3 separate regions of the Homo sapiens genome follow, and regions 1 and 2 are each linked to region 3. The links come from fine-mapping of genetic effects on gene expression. A gene starts in region 3. Each other region holds a variant in brackets. All regions are shown on one strand. Distances are from middle to middle.

Evidence for each region. PIP is the estimated chance that this variant, and not a neighbour inherited with it, causes the effect.
Region 1: its variant is fine-mapped to the expression of PSMC3 in cerebellum (GTEx, PIP 0.97).
Region 2: its variant is fine-mapped to the expression of PSMC3 in lung (TOPMed, PIP 0.99).

Annotation. Positions count from the first base shown.
Region 1 is chr11:47,354,700-47,362,874 of GRCh38, forward strand. It overlaps SPI1 (Spi-1 proto-oncogene), which reads right to left. Exons shown (of 5, transcript NM_003120.3): 3 at 5,154-5,341; 4 at 4,145-4,307; 5 at 161-847. The coding sequence ends at 528. Among named protein-coding and RNA genes, the nearest start is that of MYBPC3, 6.1 kb to the left of the region's middle. The variant G/A (reference allele first, on the strand shown) is at 4,343.
Region 2 is chr11:47,381,637-47,389,811 of GRCh38, forward strand. SLC39A13-AS1 (SLC39A13 antisense RNA 1) reads right to left here. Exons shown (of 4, transcript NR_182308.1): 4 at 1-2,196. Among named protein-coding and RNA genes, the nearest start is that of SPI1, 7.2 kb to the left of the region's middle. The variant C/T (reference allele first, on the strand shown) is at 3,405.
Region 3 is chr11:47,423,311-47,431,470 of GRCh38, forward strand. PSMC3 (proteasome 26S subunit, ATPase 3) reads right to left here and starts at 3,129. Exons shown (of 12, transcript NM_002804.5): 1 at 2,895-3,129; 2 at 2,557-2,640; 3 at 1,811-1,936; 4 at 1,297-1,401; 5 at 1,119-1,181; 6 at 736-873. The coding sequence starts at 2,969. RefSeq lists silencers at 2,756-2,967, 3,238-3,367 and an enhancer at 2,938-3,137.

The DNA.
Region 1 (8,175 bases), 69 kb before region 3:
GGCGCTCTGTGTCATTGGTCCTCATGTTCCCAGGGTCCAGCATTGGGTACAGTCCTCGGTAAACACCCGATGGACAAATGACAAAAAGAGACGTCGCAGCACACAGGGGCCAAAAGAGATACACAACAAATTTTAAAAGAGACTCTGTGCTGCAAGAGGATGGATTGAGAATAACTTTACTTGTTTTTTGGGAGGAGGTTAATGGGTGGGAGGGGTGAGAGGGGAGATCTGATTTACATACGGACTTGAGACTCCCAAGGCAGTACCCCGGGTCGTCCTCTGCAAGGTTGCCCCGGTGGGGTCTGACGCCCAGCTGGCGTCCGGGAGCCGGGGTGGAGTCCTGGAGGGAGGCGAAGCGGGATGTGGAGGGGGCCTGGAGTGGGGGGAGGGGGCGGGTGAGGCGAGGCCCGGCCCGCCACAGTCCTGCCTCTGGGCCCCGGGAGCGTCCTCCCTGTGTCCGGGCCGGGCGAGGGCTTAATGCTATGGCCAGCGGGGAGGCCTGGCGGGGCCCGGCGGGGGCTGCGGGCTCAGTGGGGCGGGTGGCGCCGCTCGGCCAGGCCCCCGCGGCCCAGCACTTCGCCGCTGAACTGGTAGGTGAGCTTCTTCTTCACCTTCTTGACCTCGCCCGTCTTGCCGTAGTTGCGCAGCGCGCGCGCCATCTTCTGGTAGGTCATCTTCTTGCGGTTGCCCTTCTGGATGCCCCAGCGGTGCGCCAGCGCCTCCTTGTGCTTGGACGAGAACTGGAAGGTGCCCTTGTCCTTGTCCACCCACCAGATGCTGTCCTTCATGTCGCCGCTGCGGAGCAGGTCCAACAGGAACTGGTACAGGCGGATCTTCTTCTTGCTGCCTGCGGGGGGGAGGGCCCGGTGGGAGGGGGCCCGGGGCCCACATGGGAGCCGCCCCCACCGCCTTGCGTACGCACAGGGGCCCGGGGACGGGGTGGCCGGGAAGGGCAGGGGAACGGCTGCCCCAGCCCGCGCCGGGCGTGCATACACAACGCACCCACACTCACACACACACACATGCTTGCGCACACACAGGCGTTCACACACACCCACTCACACCCACGCACTCACCCCCCCCACGCGCACACACTCGCACCCACACAGTGCACCAAGTACACACACATGCTCACATCCACATAACGCACCCACACCTCCTTACACATGCTCACACATCACGCCCACACCCACTCACACACGTGCTCACACAACGCACCTTCTCACACCCACTCACACTCATGCTTAAACACAATGCAACCACTCACTCATGCTCACACCCACACACGCTCACACGTACAATGTATCTGATCACACACATGCTGTCACACACATGCACACACAATGCACGTGCTCACAGACTCACACCCACATGCTCACACACATGCTTGTGCAATGCACCCAAACGCCAGATTGCACCCACACCCACCCACTTGCACATTCACACCCACATCTGCCCTCACACACTGTCACTTTCTCACACACCCACACAATGCACCAGCTCACACTCACACACATGCTCACACACTCATTCACTAACATGCCCCCACACACTGGCACCCACACGACACACCCACTCACATGCTTGCACCCACCCACATGTTCAAACCCACACTGCATCTGCTTACACATTCACAACCCACTCACACACACCTGGTCACACCCACTCATGCTCACACCTCATTCACACCCACTCACATGCACACTCACACCCACCCAATGCACCCACTCACACACATGCACACACACTCAGACCCACTTACTGCCCCCACACACGGTCACACCCAATGCACCTTCTCACACTCATATGCCCACTCACACCTGCTCACACACACCTCACACCAGGTTCACACACTCATGTTCACACACCTGCTCATACACCTCACACCAGGTCTCATAATCACACCTGCTTATACTTGCTTACACATGCTTGCACAAACACACCTGCTTACACATCTTACACTGCTCACCCTCACACCTTACATTGCTCACCCTTGCACACACATGCCCCTGCTCACACACACATGCTTACACCACACCATTCACTCACACATATCCACTCACATATGATCGCACCTACCCACACCTCACACACACTTGCACGCACACACCTGCTTACACACATCTCACGTTACTCAGCCCCACACGCACACACCTGCTCACACACATCTCACATTACTCAGCTACACACACACGCCCCTGCTCACACACTTGTGCTCACACACCTCACACCATTCACTCACGCACACACCCACTCACACATGCTCACGTCTGCTCACACACATGCTCACCTATCCATACACACACTTCCTCACACACCTCACACCAAGTCTCACACACACTTATGCTTACAAACTCATGCTCACACACATGCTAACACTTCACACATGCTAACACCTCACACATTCACACCCACTCACATGCTCACACCTCACACATGCTCACACCTCATACCTCACACACATGCTCACATCTCACACCCACTCACACACACCTGCCCACACATATCTGCACACACACATGCTCACACATATGCTCACACATCACACATACCTGCTCACATACATGCTCACACCTCACAGCTGCTCACTTATCACTCACACGCTCACACCAGCTCTTTCACACCTCATTGACACCTGCTCACTCATATTTCACACCACTTACACTTGCACCTCACACCTGCTCACGCATGCACATACATTCTGCTCATGCATATCCACTTGCATGCTTACACGCCTGTTCACACACAACCACTCAGACACCTACTTGCACACTCAAATGCTCACACACATTCTGCTCTCACATCCACTCACAGCAGCTCACACTCATGCATGCTCACACACACCTGCTCTCACACTCACACATCACACCCATTCTCTTGTTTTTGAGATGGAGTTGCTCTTGTTGCCCAGGCTGGAGTGCAATGGCACGATCTCGGCTCACTGCAACCTCCACCTCCCGGGTTCAAGCAATTCTCCTGTCTCAGCCTTCCAAGTAGCTGGGATTACAGGCGTTCACCACCACGCCTGACTAATTTTTGTATTTTTAGTGGAGACGGGGTTTCGCCATGTTGGCCAGGCTGGTCTCGAACACCTGACCTCAGGTGATCCGCCTGCCTCAGCCTCCCAAAGTGCTGGGATACAGGCGTGAGCCACCACGCCCGGCCCACTCACACCCATTCATGCTCACACACTCATTCACACACCTGCTTTCACACATACACATACCTGTTCACACACATGCACACCTGCTCACACACGCAGGTGCTTAAGCACGTCCTCACCCCCCACACACACCTGCTCACACATGGGAACACACACATGCTTACACATGTTAAAACACATATCCACTCACATACATGCACAGACCTGCTCACATATACACATACATGCTCACACACCCCAGCTCACACCTTCCTGCTCACACACACCTGCTTACATACACCCTCAAACATGTTCACACCCACTCACACATCCACTGACACACACCTATGCCCATTCACACACACTTATATCACACACATCCCTGCTTACATACACATTCACACATATACACTTGCTCACACACCTGCTGTCACACCCCCACTCACACATATCACTCACACATGCCTGCTTACAGCCACTCACATATACCATGCTCACATCCCTGCTCACACAGGCACACCCACACACTGCTGACACCCACTGACATCATACGTGCACAGCTGCTCACACGCACTGAAATACATTCATGTGTTGACAGACACACAAACATGGCCACACCCACTCTCAGCCACACCAGCTCTCACATTCACCTTCTCACACACCCACTCACACAGCCACTCGCACACATGCACCTGCCCGTACCTGTGCACACGCACCCTCTGCACACTTGCTCACACACACCCAGATGTACACACACTCATGGCACAGAGAGACACACACACCTGGCACACTTCATGGAGATGCCCGTATGCACTACACAGCAGATACACACACACAGAGACAGCCACAGACAGCCCCACAAAACACACACACTGGCAAACATGCACACACACACACACGCGACTCGGTGGCGTGGCTGCTGGGTCAGTTGGCCTGGCTGGGTGGGGGCAGGGCACAGACACGGCCAGGGTCGGGGCCAGGGTGGAGGGCCAGGTGCCCCACCTGTCTCCCCAGGCAGGAGCCCAGGCCCGGGCTCCAGGCCATCCGCCTCGCCGTCAGACACCTCCAGTGGGGGGCTCTGCCGCTCGCCCTCCTCCTCATCTGAGCTGGGCTGGGCTGGGGACAGGGATGGGTACTGGAGGCACATCCGGGGCAGGTAGGAGACCTGGACGGTGGGGGAAGGAGATCAGAGTCAGGAAG[G/A]GCCAGCTTACAGCTCAGGGGGGCTGGGAGGGAGGTCAGCTGGGGAGAGAAGGAGTGCAGAGGGCAGGGGACAATGGCAGGCACAGGAGACTGGAGGAAGAAGACCAGGGAAAAGGGGGGCCAGTTGAGGTGCTGCACATAGGGTGCAGGCTGTGGGGCGAGGGGTGCTGACATCCAGCCCACCCAGCCCTCCCAGCTGGGCCTCCTGGTTTAGGACTGTGGGCACCGGGGAAGTGGTGCCTTGTTCTCCTCCCTGCAGCGGTGCTGTGTGGACCCGCATTAGGCTGGGGTCAGAAGAGGGCATGCTAGGGACCGGTGCGTTGGGTCTGGAAGGGGGTTTCATAGGTGGGATGATGAGTGAGTGGAGGGACCCTGGAGGTCAGTAGGGGTGGTAGAGGTCAGCAGAGGTCACTGATCCGGGTTAGGGTCAGTAGGGAGGGTCACTGGGGAGAGGCAGGGTCAGTAGAGGTGTTCAGTGACTTGGTGTGGGATCCATGAGGGCTAGTGAATGGGGGTGGCAGACAGTGAGGCCCAGGAGGGCCCACAACAAGGCGTTGGGATGGGGAGGCTTGGTGAGGGTGCGAGAATTATCTGGGGTCTGTCCATACTCGGGGTGAGATGAGATAAGGGGTGTGGGGTCATGAGGTCACTTGGGGGGTCAGGCGGCAGCCGTTGGAGCTCCAGCCGCCGTTGGCACTGTGGGGCAGGAAGCTGAGTTGGGTAAGAGCCTGTGTCAGCTTCCTGTGAAGCTCCCGGGCCCCACCACAGGCCTGGCAGTCTCCTGGGGGACGGGGCAGGCGGTGGCATGCACCTGGTGGCCAAGACTGGGATGGGGTGGCACCATGGGGGTATCGAGGACGTGCATCTGCTCCAGCTCCATGTGGCGGTAGAGCTGCTGCAGCTGCGGGGGCTGCACGCTCTGGAGCTCCGTGAAGTTGTTCTCGGCGAAGCTCTCGAACTCGCTGTGCACGTGGTGGGGGTGGAAGTCCCAGTAATGGTCTGTGGGGGACAGCCAGGCAGTATGGGGTGAGCTCAGGGTTGGGCAGGGCAGGAAAAGGTTATAGTAACATTAAATAATACTGCCAGGCCATATGGGGCCTAACCATCTCGTTTAACCCTCGCCACCTGCATGGTTACTCTAGGCCTGCATTTTATAGATGAGGACACTGAGGCTTCGAGCGGCTACATAGCATGCCCAAGGTCAAAAGCATCCGGGTCACAGCCAGGACTCAGGGCTGAAGCAAAGCTCGTGTTCTCAGCAATTCCATCCTGATTCCTGTGCAGTCACACAGACCGAGCGTCTAATCCTGGCTCTGCCATTTACTTGCTGTGTGACCTCAGGCACATATGTGGCCTCTCTAACCTCAGTTGAGTTGCCTGTAAAATGGGGATCACAGTTATTGGGAAGATACGAATGAGTACACATTTGTAAAACACCTCGCACCAGAGCCGGCCCTCAGGGAAAGTTGATTCCCCTCCTATCCTGTTAAAACCTCCCAGCCAGGGCCGCGCGCGGTGGCTCACGCCTGTAAACCCAGCATTTTGGGAGGCGGAGGCGGGCGGATCATGAGGTCAGGAGATTGAGACCATCCTGGCCAACGTGGTGAAATCCCATCTCTACTAAAATACAAAATATTAGCTGGGCGTGGTGGTAGGTGCCGTAATCCCAGCTACTCAGGAGGCTGAGGCAGGAGAATCGCTTGAACCCGAGAGGTGGAGGTAGCAGTGAGCCGAGATTGCGCCACTGCACTCCAGCCTGGCGACAGAGTGAGACTCTGCCTCAAAAAAAAAAAAACTCGGCCGGGCGCAGTGGCTCACGCCTGTAATCCCAGCACTTTGGGAGGCCGAGGTGGGTGGATAACGAGGTCAGGAGATCAAGACCATCCTGGCTAACACAGTGAAACCCCGTCTCTAGTAAAATACAAAAAAATTAGCTGGGCGTGGTGGCGGGTGCCTGTAGTCCCAGCTACTCAGGAGGCTGAGGCAGGAGAATGGTGTGAACCCAGGAGGCGGAGGCTGCAGTGAGCCGAGATTGCGCCACTGCACTCCAGCCTGGGCGACGGAGCGAGACTCCGTCTCAAAAAGAAAAAAAAAGAAAAAAGAAAAGAAAAAAACCTCCCACGGGTTCCTGAGCTCCCTGGCTGCCCACAGTCTCTCTCTCTGTCTCACACACACACACTCACACAGCCTTGTCACATGGCCAAGGTGTGACAGCAGAGTCACAGGGCTGACATTCCTCACACACTAGAACTTGTCCAGGCACACGGTGGCCCTTCCTCTTCAAAGCCATGACCTTAAGCAGTGGCACCTGTGTTCCCGTGAGGTTCCTGGGACCTGAGACTTTCCTGGAAAACCCCCTGTGGGTTCCTTGAGTCTGTGGTGGAGGAGACTGAAGTCCGGGGAATAACCCCATGCCACCAAAAGCCCTGTCTTGGAACTGGGGAAGATCTTCAGCATGAACACCTTTTCCAGGAACAAAAACTGCCACACATCTGCGGGACTTCCTGGGCGCAATTCGGGGTCCAAAATGAAGCGTGGTAATAAAGTGACAAGATCGGCTGTCTCATGTGGGCCAAAGAGGGCGCCTACGAGACTCCAGGTCCAGGCAGTGTCTCTGGGACAAGTCCACCACCAGCCATGCGTGCGTGTGTACGTGTGTACAAAGGTGTACACATGTCTGCCTGCATCTCTCTTTCTCTCTCACACAAACACCTAATCACACATCCCTAATAGATAATCATGATTTTTGGTTCTGGACTGGATCTCGGAGTACTCGCTTTCTAAACCTGCTTTGCAGTATGACCATGGACAAGACATTTTTTTCTCCCGGAGCCTCTCATTCCCCACTCTAAAAGTCAGAAATGCTTTTAGACCTGGGTAGTTACTGAGGCCTTGTCTACATGTATAATTATTTGGCCTCACAGTCCAGACAACCCAGACTCCCACCTTTAGGAAGCCACATGGCAGAGAGGAGAGAAAGGCAGAGCTGGGCTCAAGTTCTGGCTCTGCCATTTACCACTGTGTGACAATGGGCAGGTCATTCTATTTCTCCAAGCCTGTGTCCTCATCTGTTAAATGGGGCTAACAATTACACCCATCTCACAGGCTTGTTTTGAGAAGCAAATGACCTATTGCTTGCAAAGTGCTTAGACTAGAACTTGGCACAAAGACAGACCTTGATAAACATTAACTTCATCATTATCATTATTATTAATAATAATAATAGTTTATTCTAAAGAGCCTAGATTCCCACTGAGTGTGGTTACACCTATAATCCCAGCTACCCAGGAGGCTGGAGAGGGAGGATCACTTCAGCCCAGGAGTTTGAGACCGGCCTGGGCAACATAGTGAGACCCTATCTCTACAAAAAATGTTTAAAAATTTGCCAGACATGGTGGCACACACTTCTAGTCCCAGCTACTTGGGAGGCTGATACGAAAAGATCGTTTGAACCCAGGAGTTTGAGGCTGCAGTGAGCTATGATTACATCACTGCCTCCAGCCTGGGTGACAGAGTGAGACCCTGTCTCTTTTTTTTTTTTTTTTTTTTTCTCTGAGATGAAGTCTCACTCTTGCCCAAGCTGGAGTGCAGTGGCACGATATCGGCTCACTGCAACCTCCACCTCCCGGGTTCAAGTGATTCTCCTGCCTCAGCCTCCCAAGTAGCTGGTAATACAGGCATGTACCACCATGCCCAGCTAATTTTTGTATTTTTAGTAGAGATGGGGTTTCACTATATTGGCCAGGCTGGTCTTGATCTCCTGACCTCGTGATCTGCCCACCTCAGCCTCCCAAAGTGCTGGGATTACAGGCTTGAGCCACTGCGCCCAGCTG
Region 2 (8,175 bases), 42 kb before region 3:
TCCTTTGGTTAGATACTCAGTGAGATTGCTGGATCAAATGATATTTCTTTTCCTTTCTTCTTTTCTCTCTTTTTCTTTTTCTTTTGAGACTGAGTTTCGCTCTTGTTGCCCAGGCTGGAGTGCAGTGGCACAATCTTGGCTCACTTTGCCTCCCGGGTTCAAATGATTCTCCTGCCTCAGCCTCCTGAGTAGCTGGGATTACAGGCGCCCGCCACCACGCCCAGCTAATTATTGTATTTTTAGTAGAGATGGGGTTTCATCATTGTTGGCCAGGCTAGTCTCAAACTCCTGATCTCATGTGATCCACCTGCCTCGGCCTCCCAAAGTGCTGGGATTACAGACGTGAGCCACCATGCTTGGCCAGTTCTTTTTCTTTTGAGACAGAATGCCACTTTATCACTGAGGCTGGAGTGCAATGGCGTGATCTTGGCCCACTGTAGCCTGGACCTCCTGGGCTCAAGCGATCCTCCCGCCTCAGCCTCTGGAGTAGCTGGTACTATGGATGTGTGCCACCTGTAGTCTCATCTAATTTTCTGTATTTTTTGTAGAGATAGGGTTTCACCATGTTGCCCAGGCTGATCTTGAACTCCTGGGCTCAAGCAATCCACCTGCCTCAGCCTTCCCAAATGTTGGGATTATAGGTGTGAGCCACTGCATCTGGCCAAAAGGTAGTTCTGTTTTTAGTTCTTTGAGAAATCTCCATACTCTTTTCCGTAGAGGTTGTCATTTAATCACTTACTTTTTATTGAGTGTCTTCCATGGTCTGGGCCTAGTAAGGGGGATAGACATGAATGAGGCATACTCGGAGCCTCCAGCAGCTTACAGGCCTGCAGAGGGTCATGTGAGCAGATAGTGGGGCAAGAGAGGAGGTGCCAGGTACACTTGGTCTCAAAGGTGCATTAGGGAACCATTGATTGGGTCAGGGTCCCAGATAGGATGGCTTAGGGAAGCGTGCAGGGGGAAAGCATGTCTGGCTGAGAATCAACTTAAGCAAAGGAAACGAAGAGGAAAACAGGAAGCCACCATCTTTGCAGCTGGAAGCAAAGCAGGACAGGAAAGCAAAGAGCCTTGAGTGCCAAGCCAAGGAGCCTGAGTCGTGTGCAGGGATGGCTGTGGAGTCTTTGCTGGTTGTAAGCAAGGAGTATGGGGGCTGTCCTCCGTGGGTGCAGCCAAGAAACACAGTAGACTGTGTGTTCCCGAGGCCTAAGATTCAAGGGGCTCCAGGAGAAGGAAGATATCCCATTGCCTCAAGTATGGCCAAGCTCAAGGGGCCTGGGTGAGGAACTCCATAAAAGAGATCCAGGGTCAATAACCTCTGGAAATAGGCAGAATGTCCTCTGCCCTCTGGGCAATGCTAGAGTGTCCTCCCAACTCCTCTTTCCACTCCTCCCCCTCCCAAAGTACATCAGAAGCCTCATCCCCTTACATCCCCAGGGACCCGTGGTAATTCAAATTCTTGGGAATAGTAGGACCCAGATTCCAAGAACAGGAACGGTTTGGTAATCCATAACCTCACGGTTAGTAGTTCCTTAAAAAGGAAAAGAAAAAAATTTTTGAGTGCCTGGCACCATTCTGGGTGCTTCCACCCTATGATCTCACATCACCAAGACAGCCATCTGTTGAACTGAGGCCCAAGAGACCAGTGACTGGCCCAGGGTTGCACAGCATGTGTGGGTAGAGAGCTGGGGCATGAACCCTGGCTTCTGGGGCTCTAGGAAGGGCTGGGTCTTCTGGGGAGGGAAGGAAGCTAGAGGAAGAACGGAGAGAGACTGAGAAGCTGAGGCAGGGAGCAGGGAGGAAGGGGAGGGAGGAGAAGAGAGGAAGGGAAAGAGAAGCAAAATAGCAAGATCAAAGGAGGGAGCAGAGAGAAGGGAGAAACAGGACAAGAGGTGAGGAGGCAGCACGAACCTCAGGCGAAAAAGAGGAGAGCAGGGCGAAGGCAGATGGAGGAGGAGGAGGACAGAGGAGGGACAACGAGGAGGTTTTGGGGAGACAGGGACAGTGGCTGGCTGGAGGTGATGGGACCCCAGAGGAACACATTCCCAGCTTCTCCCTCCTGCAGCAGAGCAAAAGAGGGGCAGAGAAGGTCCCTGACTTGCAGGAGGTCAGCAGGTGCATCGTGCTGGAATGTGGCTCCATTTCATTCTGGTCAGCAGGAAATTGGTTTGAAACCAAAAATCTTGGACGCTCTAGGGACTGAAAAACAAAAACATCATTTTTAATTATTTTATTTTTTGAATAGATAACATGTGCACATGGTACAAAATTCAAAAGGTACAAAAAAGGTAAACAACTGCCCAGTTCCCCTTCCACAGACTAGCCCACTTGTTACCTGATCTTGTGTTTTGGTCTAGAAATCATCTACACAGCGTGTAGCAGATATATTTTTAAAAATTTTACACAGAGGGGGCCGGGCGTGGTGGCTCACGCCTGTAATCCCAGCATTTTGGGAGGCCAAGGGGGGTGGATCACGAGGTCAGGAGATTGAGACCATCCTGGCTAACACGGTGAAACCCCATCTCTACTAAAAAAAAAATACAAAAAATTAGCCGGGCGTGGTGGCGGGCGCCTGTAGTCCCAGCTACTCGGGAGGCTGAGGCAGGAGAATGGTGTGAACCCGGGAGGCGGAGCTTGCAGTGAGCCGAGATCGTGCCACTGCACTCCAGCCTGGGCGTTAGAGCGAGACTCCGTCTCAAAAAAAAAAAAGGAAAGAAAAAAATTTTTTACACAGAGGGGGGCACATTAAACATATTGTAGTTCCCTTGTTTTTTTTCCCCAATATACATGTCACACCCATGTAGCACTGTCTTGTCCTTCTGAGTTTTTTCCATTTATAGTTTTTGTGGGTACATAGTAGGTGTGTTTATTTATGGGGTACATGAGATATTTTGATACAGGCATAAATTGTGTAATAATCACATCAGTAAATGGGGTATCCACCACCTCAAGCATTTTTCATTTCCTTGTGTTACCAACATTCCAATTATATTCTTTTAGTTATTTTTAAATACACTATAAATTAGTGTTGACTGTAGTGTCTTTTTAATGGCCGTATAGTATTCCACTATTTGGATTTACCAGGATATTTTTAAGTCATGAGAGACATCGTTCATTTAGAAGAGTAAATACAATATTTATGTGCAGTTTAAAGAATAATTATAAAGCAGCCGGGTGCAGTGGCTCATGCCTGTAATGCCATCACTTTGGGAGGCCGAGGCAGGCAGATCACCAAGTCAGGAGATTGAGACCATCCTGGCTAACACGGTGAAACCCCGTCTCTACTAAAAATACAAAAAAAAAAATTAGCCAGGCATGGTGGCACGGTCTGTAGTCCCAACTACTCGGGAGGCTAAGGTAGGAGAATGGTGTGAACCCGGGAGGCAGAGCTTGCAGTGAGCCGAGAT[C/T]GCGCCACTGCACTCCAGCCTGGGCGACAGAGCAAGACTCCGTCTCCAAAAAAAAAAAAAAAAGATAATTATAAAGCTGACATCTATGTAACCACCATCCAGGTAAAGAAATAAAAAAGTTGCCAGAAAGGCCGGGCGCGGTGGCTCACGCCTGTAATCCCAGCACTTTGGGAGGCTGAGGTGGGCAGATCACGAGGTCAGGCGATCGAGACCATCCTGGCTAACACGGTGAAACCCCATCTGTACTAAAAATACAAAAAAAAATTAGCCGGGCGTGGTGGCGGGTGCCTGTAGTCCCAGCTACTTGGGAGGCTGAGGCAGGAGAATGACGTGAACCTGGGAGGAAGAGATTGCAGTGAGCCGAGATCGCGCCACTGCACTCCAGCCTGGGTGACAGGGCAAGACTCCATCTCAAAAAAAAAAACAAAACAAAACAACAAAAAAACATTGCCAGAACCCCAGAAGAATCCCCAAATGTCCCCTACTTCCCTCTAGAAATAACACTGTCCTAACTTTTTCAGTAATTTTCTACTTGCTTTTCTTTTATTTTTTATTTATTTATTTTTTTTCCGACGGAGTCTCACCCTGTCGCCCAGGCTGGAGTGCGATGGCATGATCTTGGCTCACTGCAACCTCTGCCTCCCAGATTGAAGTGATTCTCCTGCCTCACCCTCCCGTGTAGCTGGGATTACAGCCGTGTGCCACCACACCCGGCTAATTGTTTGTATCTTTAGTAGAGACAGGGTTTCACCATGTTGGCCAGGCTGGTCTCAAACTCCTGACCTCATTATTTGCCCGCCTCAGCCTCCCAAAGTTCTGGAATTACAGGCATGAGCCAACGCACAGGCCTCTTGCTTTTTCTCTTGCTTTCCCTTATAGTTCAGTTTTTATTTTAACAGGTTTTAATCTTTATATTAAAAAAATCATAGTGTAAATATCCTTTTGGGTCTTTCTTCTTTTCCCCACCATGTTATTCTGTGTCGCTATGGTCCATTTTCATTGCTGGATAGTATTCCAGTGTTATTTATTTACTTATCTTTTTGAGATGGAGTCTCGCTTTGTCACCCAGGCTGGAGTGCAGTGGCATGATCTCGGCTCACTGCAACCTCCGCTTCCTGGGTTCAAGCAATTATCCTGCCTCAGCCTCTCCAGTAGCTGGGATTACAGACATGGGCAACCACTCCCAGCTAATTTTTGTATTTTTGGTAGAGACAGGGTTTCACCATGTTGGCCAGGCTGGTCTCAAACTCCTGATCTCCAGTGATCCCCCTGCCTTGGCCTCCCAAAGTGCTGGGAATACAGGCGTGAGCCACCGCACCCAGCATTCCATTGTTATTTAACCAGTCTCTCATCAGTATATATGTATTTTTGAGACAGGGTCTCATTCTGCACACACAGCTGGAGTGTAGTGGTTCTATCATGGCTCACTGCAGCCTCGACCTCCTGGGCTCAGGCGATCCTCCCACCTCAGCCCCCCAAGTAGCTTTAACCACTTATTGATGGACATTTGTTTCGAGTCTTTTGCTATTACAAATAATACAGCAATCAATAACATATGCTAAATTACATATATGCAGGAGGGAGGATGTCTAGGAGAGATTCCCAAAAGTTGAATTACCAGGTCAAAGGACAGTGCATTTTTCATTTTTTAATTTTTATGTATGTATTTATGTATTTTATTTTATTTTATTTTATTGAGATGGAGTCTTGCCCTGTCACCCAGGCTGGAGTGCAGTGGAGCAATCTTGGCTCACTGCAGCCTCCACCTTCTGGGTTCAAGCAATTCTCCTGCCTCAGCCTCCTGAGTAGCTGGGATTACGGGTGCACGCCACCATGCCCAGCTAATGTTTTTTGTATTTTTAGTAGAGACAGGAGTTTTGCCATGTTGCCAAGGCTGGGTCTCAAACCCCTGGGCTCAAGCGATCCACCCACCTTGGCCTCCCAAAGTGCTGGGATTACAGGCATGAGCCACCACTCCTGGCCTGTATTTATTTTTTAGAGATAGAGTCTCCCTCTGCTGCCCAGGGTGGTCTCGAACTCCTGCCCTCCAGCCATCCTCCTGCCTTGGCCTCCCAAAGTGCTGAGATTACACGTGTGAGCCACTATGCCCTCTGTGCATTGTTAATTTTGAGACAGATGATGGATAGACAGACAGGGCGGGTGCAGTGGCTCACGCCTGTAATCCCAACACTTTGAGAGGCCAAAGTGGGAGAATCACTTGAACCCAGGAGTTTGAGACCAGCCTGGGCAACATAGGGAGACCCCATCTCTAAAAAAATTTTCAAAATTAGCTTGGTGGGGTGGTGGTGGTGGTGGTGTGTGCCTGTGGTGCCAGCTACTCAGGAGGCTGAAATGGGAGGATTGGTTGAGCCCTGGAGGATGAGGGTGCAGTGAACCATGATCACGCCACTGCACTGCAGCCTGGGTGACAGAACAAGACCCTGTCTTAAAAAAAAAAATAAGACTGGAAACAGATATTATCACATTGCCCTTAACAAAAGTTGTATCAGCCAGGCATGATAGCTCACGCCTGTAATCCCAGCACTCCCAGAGGCGAGTGGATCTCCTGAGGTCAGGAGTTTGAGACCAGCCTGGCCAACATGGTGAAACCCCGTCTCCACTAAAAATACAAAATTTAGCTGGGTGTGGTGGTGCACACCTGTAGTCCCAGCTACTCAGGAGGCTGAGGCAGGAGAATCACTTGAACCTGGGAGGCAGAGGTTGCAGTGAGCCAAGATGGCACCACTACACTCCAACCTGGGTGACAAGAGTGAAACTCCATCTCAAAAATAAATAAATAAATAATAATAAAAATAAAAGTTATACCTATTCATTATCCTACCAGTCCTGCTAGACAGTGCAGCTTCCCAGCCTACTAGACAAGTGGGAGACCCTGCAGGGGCTGGGCCTTGCAGAGTGACAGGGAGGCTGGGCAGGCCTAGGGTAGTGTGGCCCTTTGCCCCTGCTGGCTGGGTTGATGATAGGGGCAGGCCGGGTGCTAATGCAATCACAAAGCAGGCGGGCAACAGGAAACTTGAGGGGGTGTCCTCAAAGCTGAGTCCACAGAGGGGAGCACGACCCCTGACCTCATAGATCTCTCAGCCTTGGCCCAAACGAGCTAGAAAATGAGGAAATGTCCCCCCACCCACTTTCCTAGCAACCTGTCCCCATAGGGTGTGACAAGGCATGTGAGAACACACAGGCCTCAGACCAAGAGCTGGGAAAGTTGACCAAAAAGAGCTGAGCCTGTGGACAGAAATGGCAGTCTTGCAACTTCCTCTCATGGTTGAGACACTGGGAGAGGCTCCCTGGGCCCCAGCCAGGGTCAACTGGGCCCCTCCGAGCTCCCCAAGTTTTGTTGACAGCACTGGGCTGGCTCTTCAGTGCATTAAGGCCTTCAACAATGATTGACTCGGGGCCTCTGCATGCCAGGCAGCCCAAACAGGCAGGGCCCTTCATCCCCGCCCTCATGGGCCTGCTCTTCAGCAGGGCAAGACCCACGATGAACTCATGATAGCGAGTGTTCATTGCATGTTGGAAGGTGACACTCGCCATAGGAACAAGGGCATGCAGCTGGATAAGGGGCTTGCGGTAGGGGATGGAGTGGGCGGGGACAGTTTGCAGCATTCACGAGAGCAGGCAGGGCAGGCTTCACCAAGAGAGGTGCATCCGGCAAACCCTGGAAGCAAGTGAGGGAGCGAGCCAAGCAGATGTCTGGGAGAAGAATTCCGGGCAGAGGGACTAGTCAGTGCCAATGCCCCAGGCAGGAGCGTGAGCCAGAGATGGCAAGGAGGCCTATGGGGGCACAGCCAGTGGCAGAAGCTCAGACAGGGCCAGTCAGGTCAGGCCATGGTATGGAATTTGGCTTTGACTCCAGGAAACATGGAGTGTGTCGCAGGGTGTGTCCTCTCTTATTCAAACCTGAAGCTGGTGCCGTGGTACACATGAGGAGACTGAGGCTCAGAAGTGGCCGTGAGTCGGCACAGCGTGGCTTGGTCAATCCGGGGTGTAGGTGAGGCTTTCGCCCAGATCCACCTGAGACCTAGACCCCAGCTCTGCACCATGGCAGTGCTCCAGTGCTTGTGGGTGGTGACAGGCAAGCACTGGAGGGTGCCCGTGCTGGGCACTAACTCACCCCTCCCTCACGTAACCGTACGAGGCAGGCCTTGTCAGTGCCATTCTGCAGATGACGGAAGTGCAGTTCCCGGAGGTAAGGGGCACGGCCAAGGGCACACAGCCGGGAGCAGGGCAGGAGGTGATTGTGGTTCTCAGGGCCCCTCAGGCCTGTGCCTCCGTGGCTGTCCCTATCTCGAGGTTCTCTCATGGATATTTCCCCACCTAAAAGTCTTCCTGAGCTCTTGCCTGTCCTCAAGCTGAAGCCCAAACCTCCGAGGCCTGTGCGGGAACCTCCAACGCCCGGAGTCCGGCCAGCCTTTCTGCCCGTCCCCAGCCCAAGTGGCCAGCCCCACCTCCACCTCCAGCCAGAGGACACCGCTCAGCATTCCTGGAACCTTTCTCAGTCTCCCCAGCTTTTGCGCACAAGCCCACCCACTTCCACACCCTCAGATCTCTCTCTTTCAAGGGCTTGCCTCCTCCAGGCTGCCACCCAAGACCGCCTTCCCTCTAGTTTCCCCCCACCGCTCCCCAGCTCTGCCTCAGTCTCTTGTCCCACTCTGCCCCAGCCCCAGTGGCCAGGGGCAGCTAGACCTCCTCTGAATCCCAAATCCTGGCCAGCCTCCCACACCCTTGTCCCTGCTGACCAGCTCTACAG
Region 3 (8,160 bases):
GAATGGCATGAACCCGGGACGCGGAGCTCGTAGTGAGCCAAGATCACGCCACTGCACACCAGCCAGCCTGAGCGGCAGAGCAAGACTCCGTCACAAAAAAAAAAAAAAGAGGACACAGAACACTCATCCCCACCCAGGCTGGCTATGGACTCTCCAGGAACGGGAGTATATGGCAGAAAAGACACCGGGCCAGGGGCTGGGAGCAGTGGCTCATGCCTGTAATCCCAGCACTTTGGGAGGCCAAGGCACGCGGATCACCTGAGGTTGGGAGTTCGAGACCAGCCTGACCAACATGGAGAAACCCCGTCTCTACTAAAAATACTCCGCTAAAATTAGCCAGGCTTGGTGTCGCATGCCTGTAATCCCAGCTACTCGAGAGGCTGAGGCAGAATTGCTTGAACCCGGGAGGCAGAGGTTGCGGTGAGCCGAGATCGTGCCATTGCACTCCAGCATGGGCAGTAAAAGCAAAACTCCATCTCGGAAAAAAAAAAAAAAAGGACACTGGGCCAAGAACCAGGAGCCTGGGCTCCAGTCCTGGCTCTGGTCTCTCTGTGATCCTGGGCAAGGCATTTAAACTCTCTGGGCTTCAGTCTCCTCACCTGTCACATGGCACCCCTCCCTTCCTCCCTAGGTTGCTATGAGGATGAAAGACACATTAGGGAGATGAGCTGCATCAATGGCGTGGAGAAACTAAAAGGCTGACAAGGCTGCTGGCAGCTGCCGTGCCTCCCTCACCTCCTGGATCTGCTTGTCCAAACCCCCAATGTCACTGTATTGCTCCGTGGGCCTCTCGTCTACCTCCATGGCCTTCACCCGCGAGTCATACTCTGTGGGCAGCGTCTCCAGGATCAGATAGGAGTCTTTGTTCACACCCTAAGGACACAGCACAGGGCCTTCAGATTTGGCCCAGCTCAAGGGCTACCCAACTGACTGGGTGACAGGTGTCTGCAGAGGGAAAGACACAGGACTGGGCAATACAAGAATCAAACAGCAAGTAGACAGAATCCCAGACTCTCGGAGCTGTTCTGCCAAGATTCAGAGCCAACAGTGACCTGGGGCGGGTACAGGGGCTCAGCTAGTCACCAGAAAAGCACTGCCTGGGCTCAGGCCCCACTCACCACCAGGTCTCCTGGCTTTAGCTTTTCAGCATCCACCAACCCAATCACAGGAAGGAAGTACGTCTGTGGACAAGTTACAGGGGCAGTCTCAGTTAGTGTCCTCAGGGAAGGCTCCCTAGTCCTGTCCCACATCCGCTCCTCACCCTCCTCCAGTCTCTCATTGCTGAGCCACGCTCACCTGTCGTGTAGAGGTTTTGATCACAGCACACTTGCCCTTCCTCTGGGAGTCCAGGTCAATATTGGCACCATCCTCCTCTTGGTCATTAGGATCAACATCCAGGAGCTGGGAAGGAAAAAATACTCAGCTCCTTGAACTCCCCAAGGCCCAGTGCTTCCTAAGACAGTTCCTAATACCTGCAGGGCTGGCCATCCTTACCTCCCTCCTCCAATAGCCCTGAGCCCACCAAACGTGGGTGCCCCTGCTAAGCCCAGGGATTGATCTCTGTGTAGGTGCTGCTCCTCTGCACAGGGCTCATCTACCCCGGAGGAGACATAACCAACAGAAAAGGAGACACGTGAGACCTCCCAGGACTTTGCAGGCCCCGTCTTCCCCATGAAAGTGCCCCAGGAGGTGTAGCTCTGACATGCAGTTTGGCCTCAATACCTCCACCCACTCTTTCCCTAGTGGCCCCACCCCAGGCTGTCCCCATTCCCTGCTGACTCCCTCTCTTCCCCTCCACATACACACACACCTCGATGACGTTGGAGACAAGGTACGGCAGGGTCTTGTTCACTTTGATTTTCTCACTGTTCTCTTTTATCTTGTCCTTCATGGCTTGGAGCTCATGGGTGACTCTCAACACTTCACTCTTCATGATCTGAGATCAGGAGGGGAGGAGAAGCAAATATAAACCCTGGCACAGCTTATGCTAGAGCCCTGTAACTAGTGAGGTCCAGGGTGCCCAGGGGACCCTCCCGCATCCATTCATCCAGCTCTGAGGCTCTCTGAAGGCAGAGTCTGACTGTGTCCACATCCTGCAGAAGTCAAAAGAGGAGGCCAGTTTGGAAACCTCCTGGTGAAATAGTGGTAGTATTGGAATAAAAGCAGGCCTCCGAGAGAGGCAAACATAGGTTTTAGGTTCTGCCTCATAGTAAGAACTGGGTGCTTTATCGCAGTACAAACCTCTCTGGGCCTGTCTCCTCATCTGTAAAATAGGCATTTTACTAAAAGAAGGATTCTTGAGAGGATTATTCCCAGTTCTCACTGGGAAAGGCAATCTGATAACTTCTCATCTCAGCCCAGGCCTCCCACCACCCCCTACCTGTCTTCTTGTCCCTTTTAAGGCTTAGTTTTCTTTCCTCTCTTCCTGATATGAGGGGGAAGCCCGAGCCCCATGTCTCCCCCAGGGTGCCCGATTAGGAAGTACGAGAGGCGACTCGGATCGCCGGGGCCTGTCCTGTGGGGGCTCCATCGCCCGCACAGGAGCTGTGCGCCCACCTTGATCTCACTGTCCAGCAGCCGTGTGCGCTGGATGATCTCCTCCGTGGACATCTTGAGCACCTCCTCCCCAATTCCATCTTGCTGTAAAAAATTATTTGTTTATTTATATATTTACTTTTACTCAGGACAAGCATCCCTCGTTCTCCGAACCCACTCACAGCCTCAGTTTCCACGCCCATAAAACCAGGATGGAGTCAGGACCCCTGCCCACATCCCAAACAACCCCGTCCCCGGGATCGGGCCAGACCTTGACCCCCAGCCACCTCCTTCCCTCTTGTCAATGGCGTCTCCCTGCGGGCCCCGGTTCCCGGACCGCCAGCTCGCCCGGTGCCCACCTCGGCCTCATCCCACACGGTCGCCATCTTCTCCTGCCGAGTCACTGGACTCTCAATATTCGGCAGCAGATTCATTTCCTGGAGGAGCGGGCAGAAGATGGGACCAGGCGGGAGCCGCAACGGGAGATTAATACCGTCTTTCTTAAAGCCTTCTCTTGACCAGTGGAAAACCTCTCCCCACAAATCCCGACTCTTGACCCGACCAGCTCCGGCCGTGCTGCGGAGCAGCGAATCTGCCTCTCCGATTCCAAAGACCAACCCCTGGCCACAGGCCCCGCCCCCGCGGACCCCGAAACGTTCCCGCCCGCGTCCTATTTTTGCCGGGCGCGAGAGGTGGGGCCGCTATTGGCCGACACGCGCGTTGGGGGCGGGGCCTATGTGTAAAACCGGAAAGGGAGGGAGAAGGGTGGGATCCGCGAGGGCCTTTGGGAAATGTAGTCTTTAATCTGGCCCGTGACAGATGCTTGCGGAGGGGCGCGTTCAAACTCAGACCGTGACCCCGCTAGGAATAAGGGGATTTACACAATGACACTGCCTCCCAATTAATAAACGACATAGGCCAGCCGTGTGCAAAGGGCCAAAAAGGCATGCCACCTCAGTCCGCATTTTTACAATTATTTAAGTACAAGCTGGCCACCCGGAGTTACGGGAGGGAATCATTAACCAGCTTTAAAGAGAAATCGCTGCTGCTCCTAACGTCAGAGCAGGCTTCACGGAATTGTCCACGTGGGAAGAACTCAATTGACCATCAGCCTCTACGATTAAAAACATTATGACTCGGGCCGGGCGCGGTGGCTCACGCCTGTAATCCCAGCACTTTGGGAGGCCGAGGCGGGCGGATCACGAGGTCAGGAGATCGAGACCATCCTGGCTAACACGGTGAAACCCCGTCTCTACTAAATATACAAAAAATTAGCCGGGCGTGGTGGTGGGCGCCCGTAGTCCCAGCTACTCCGGGCTGAGCCAGGAGAATGGCATGAACCTCGGAGGCGGAGCTTGCAGTGAGCCGTGATCGCGCCACTGCACTCCAGCCTGGGCGACAGAGCGAGACTCCGTCTCAAAAAAAATTATGTCTCGTATCTGCAATTGTTTGTTTTCTCTGACCATGGTTAGTAATCTCAGTGAGCAGAGCGGGTCTCCGGATCATGGGAGACTCATTCGTTGTACCCTTGTCGGCTATTTTAAATGATCTCTCCTTATCCTTTGAGGTGAGCCCTGGAGCCCCTTTAAAGGGAACTTCATGTAAGCAACATAGCTTATATTTCAAGTCAAACCATCACAAACACTCTGTTAACCTGATGAAAATCTGTGCAATCGTTGCCTTTTTTTTGTTTGCTTGTTTGTTTTTTGTTTTTTGAGACGGAGTCTCGCTCTGTCGCCCAGGCTGGAATGCAGTGGCGCGGTCTCTCCCTACCGCAACCTCCGCCTCCCGGGTTCAATGGATTCTCCTGCCTCAGCCTCTCAAGTAGCTGGGATTACAGGCACCCACCACCACGCCCAACTAATTTTTGTATTTTTAGTAGAGACAAGGTTTCACCATGTTGACCAGGCTGGTCTCAAACTCCTGGGCGTAAGTGATCTTCCTGCCTCAGCCTCCTAAAGTGTTGGTACTATAGGCATGAACCACTACACCTAGCCTTTGCAGTAGTTTTTTTTGGAACACGGTTGAAAGCAGAATTTTTTTCTTTAAATAACAACATGTACAGCTGCTCACTCAGGCTGACAAAGCGTCTCCTCAAGTAACAGTGCTTTATTCCATTCTCTCAACAAGCCTGCCTTGTGGACAGACTGAATTACCATTCTCAAATTTAAATAAGCATAGGGAGGCTCAGAGAGGTTAAGTGCCTTGCTGGAGGTTATTCAGTGAGTCACTGGCAGCACTAGGACTGCTGACCCCAAATTCTCACTTTGAGTTGCCCGATAGGAGCCAAGAAGCCCAGAGGGGAAAGACTGTCCAATCTGTGCTGGTCCCACTATGCCTGGGTCAGTTGGGTCCCATTCTGGGGCCTACTTTTGGAGATCCTGACAAATACGAATATGTTTAGAAAGCCTCCAGCCTGGGCCTAGGAGGGATGCAGACATTCTCCCCTTAACCAACTTTTAGGTAGGCTCTTCTGAGCCATCTTTTTTTTTTTTTTTTTTTTTTTGAGACGGAGTTTCGCTCTGTCGCCCAGGCTGGAGTGCAGTGGCGGGATCTCGGCTCACTGCAAGCTCCGCCTCCCGGGTTCACGCCATTCTCCTGCCTCAGCCTCCCAAGTAGCTGGGACTACAGGCGCCCGCCACTACGCCCGGCTAATTTTTTGTATTTTTAGTAGAGACGGGGTTTCACCGTTTTAGCCGGGATGGCCTCGATCTCCTGACCTCGTGATCCGCCCGCCTCGGCCTCCCAAAGTGCTGGGACTACAGGCATGAGCCACCGCGCCCGGCCTGAGCCATCTTTTTTTGACTAGGCCTTGTGGGCTGTTCCTTCATCCCTGTCATCAACCTGTCTAACCCTGTTTTCACAAAAATCCTGCTAGTCAGTTTAACGGAATCCCCCCACCCCTGATACCTCATCCCTCTAGATATATGATCCAGGTCCTCATTTATCCTTCACCTTTGAAGTATAAGCCCTTGGCCTGCTTTTTTTTTTTTTTTTTTTTTTTTTGAGACGAAGTCTTGCTCTGTCGCCCAGGCTTGAGTTCAGTGGTGCGATCTTGGCTCACTGCAACCTCCGCCTCCTGTGTTCAAGCAATTCTCCTGTCTCAGCCTCCTGAGTAGCTGGGATTACAGACACCCACCACCAAGCCCAGCTAATTTTTGTATTTTAGTAGAGACGGGGTGTCACCATGTTGGCCAGGATGGTCTCGACCGCCTCATGATCCTCTCGCCTCCACCTCCCAAAGTGCTGGGATTAGAGGCGTGAGCCACTGCACCCGGCCCTGAACATCTCCTTCTTTAATCCTGGCTAGAATGACAGGGATTGATTATCTTGGGAGCCCAGGAGTAGGAATGTCTTGGGGAGATGGGAGAAAAAGGAGAATAGTTTATGAAGGTTCACTCTGCTCAAAAAGGTCAAGGAAGTACCAGGAGGTCAGTCCCAGCAAGGAGCTGGGAACCTGGAGCAGAGCATGTCTTCAGGGAGAAAGAGGTTGGCTGAATTAGGGACCTCTGGTCCATCTGGGCCTCTAGAGAGAAGAGGTCTAGGCCAGGCCTAGAACAGATGTTTCTGTCTTGGCATCAAGCTAGGGTGAGAGCCACCAGGCCAAAACCCTGGAGTCATTCTTTGTTTTTGTTTGTTTGTTTTGAGACAGAGTCTCAGTCTGTCACCCAGGCTGGAGTGCAGTGGTGATTCTCCCACCTCAGCCTCCTGAGTAGCTGGGACTACAGATGCACACCACCACACCCAGCTAATTTTTGTGTTTTTGGTTTTTTTTTTCTGAGACAGAGTTTCACTCTTGTTGTCCAGGCTGGAGTGCAGTGGCACGATCTGGGCTCACTGCAACCTCCACCTCCTGGGTTCAAGCAATTCTCCTGCCTCAGCCTCCCGAGTAGCTGGGATTACAGGCATGCACCACCATGCCTGGCTAATTTTGTATTTTTAGTAGAGGTGGGGTTTCTCCATGTTGGTCAGGCTGGTCTTGAACTCCTAACCTCAGGTGATCCACCCGTCTTGGCCTCCCAAAGTGCTGGGATTACTTTACCTTAAACAAATATCCAGAATTCAGAAATAGTAAGATCTGAATCAAAACAATCAAGCGGAGGGTGTGGAGCTTGGTGGGGCTTTTGGGGGTAAACAAGATTGTCCATGTGCTGAAATGCATAGTTAAGGCTGAGATGGAAATCATTGGTTTCTCTCCTTTTGTATCTATTTGAAAATTTCCAAAACGAAAGATATAACTCCTCCTAACCCCCTTGAATAGGACCATTTCTCACTCCCTCCATTGCCTATCACCCTGGTTCAAGCCACCATCATCTCAGACCTAGCTTATTATTATTATTTGGCATTGCTGTTGCATTTGAGATGGAGTCTTGCTCTGTTGCCCAGGCTGGAGTGTGGTGGTACTATCTTGGCTCACTGCAACCTCTGCCTCCGAGGTTCAAGCAATTCTCTTCCCTCAGCCTCCCAAGTAGCTGAGATTACAGGTGTACACCACCATGCCTGGCTAATTTTTATATTTTTAGTAGAGATGGGGTTTCACCATGTTGGCCAGGCTGGTCTCGAACTCCTGACCTCAAGCGGTCTGCCCGCCTCCATCTCCCAAAGTGCTGGGATTATAGGCATGAGCCACCGCTACCCCTAGATTATTATGGGGACCTTTCCACTGGTCTCCTGGATTCTACCCTAACCCTCCTGTGATGATTAATTTTGACTGGGCCATGGGATGCCCAGGTGTTTGGTTCAACATTATTCTGGGTCTTTTTGTCAGGCTGTTTTTAGACAAGATTGACATTTAAATCAGGAGACTGAGGAAAGCAGGTTGCCCTCTCTAATGTGGGCGGGCCTCATCCTGTCAGTTGCAGGCGTTGAACAGAAAGGCTGACTCCGAGGGAGTTCTTCCTGCCAGATTCCCTTCTGACAGGCATAAAGGTCTTTTCTGCCTTTGGAGTTGAACTGAAACATTATTCTTCACAGGGCTTGAGCCTGACAGCCTTCAGAGGAGAACTACCCCATCGGCTCTCCTGGTTCTCAGACCTTCTGAATCAGGCTGGAACAAAACCATCAAGTCTCCTCGGTCTCCAGAACTCACCCTGCAGATCTAGGGACTTGCCAGACTCCATAATCACATGAGCCAAGTCCTTATACTACATCTCTTTATATAGCAGGTTGGTGCAGAAGTAATTGCAGTTTTTGCCATTAAAAGTACAAGCAGCCAGGCGCGGTGGCTCACGCCTGTAATCCCAGCACTTTGGGAGGCCGAGGCCGGTAGATCACCTGAGGTCAGGAATTCGAGACCAGGCTGACCAAGAGTAACCCCGTCTCTACTAAAAATACAAAAAAAATTAGCCGGGCGTTGGTGGTGGGCATCTGTAATCCCAGATACTCAGGACGCTGAGGCAGGGGAATTGCTTGAACCTGGGAGGTGGAGGTTGCAATGAGCTGAGATCGCACTATTGCACTCCAGCCTGTGCGACTAGACCAAGACTCCATCTCAAAACAAACAAACAAAAAAACACAAAAAACAAAAGTACAAGCAAAAAGATCCTATTGGTTCTGTTTCTCTGGACAATGCTTCCTAAAATCTACTATTTTGAAAAACCCTTTATTTTGAAAAATGTTGAACAT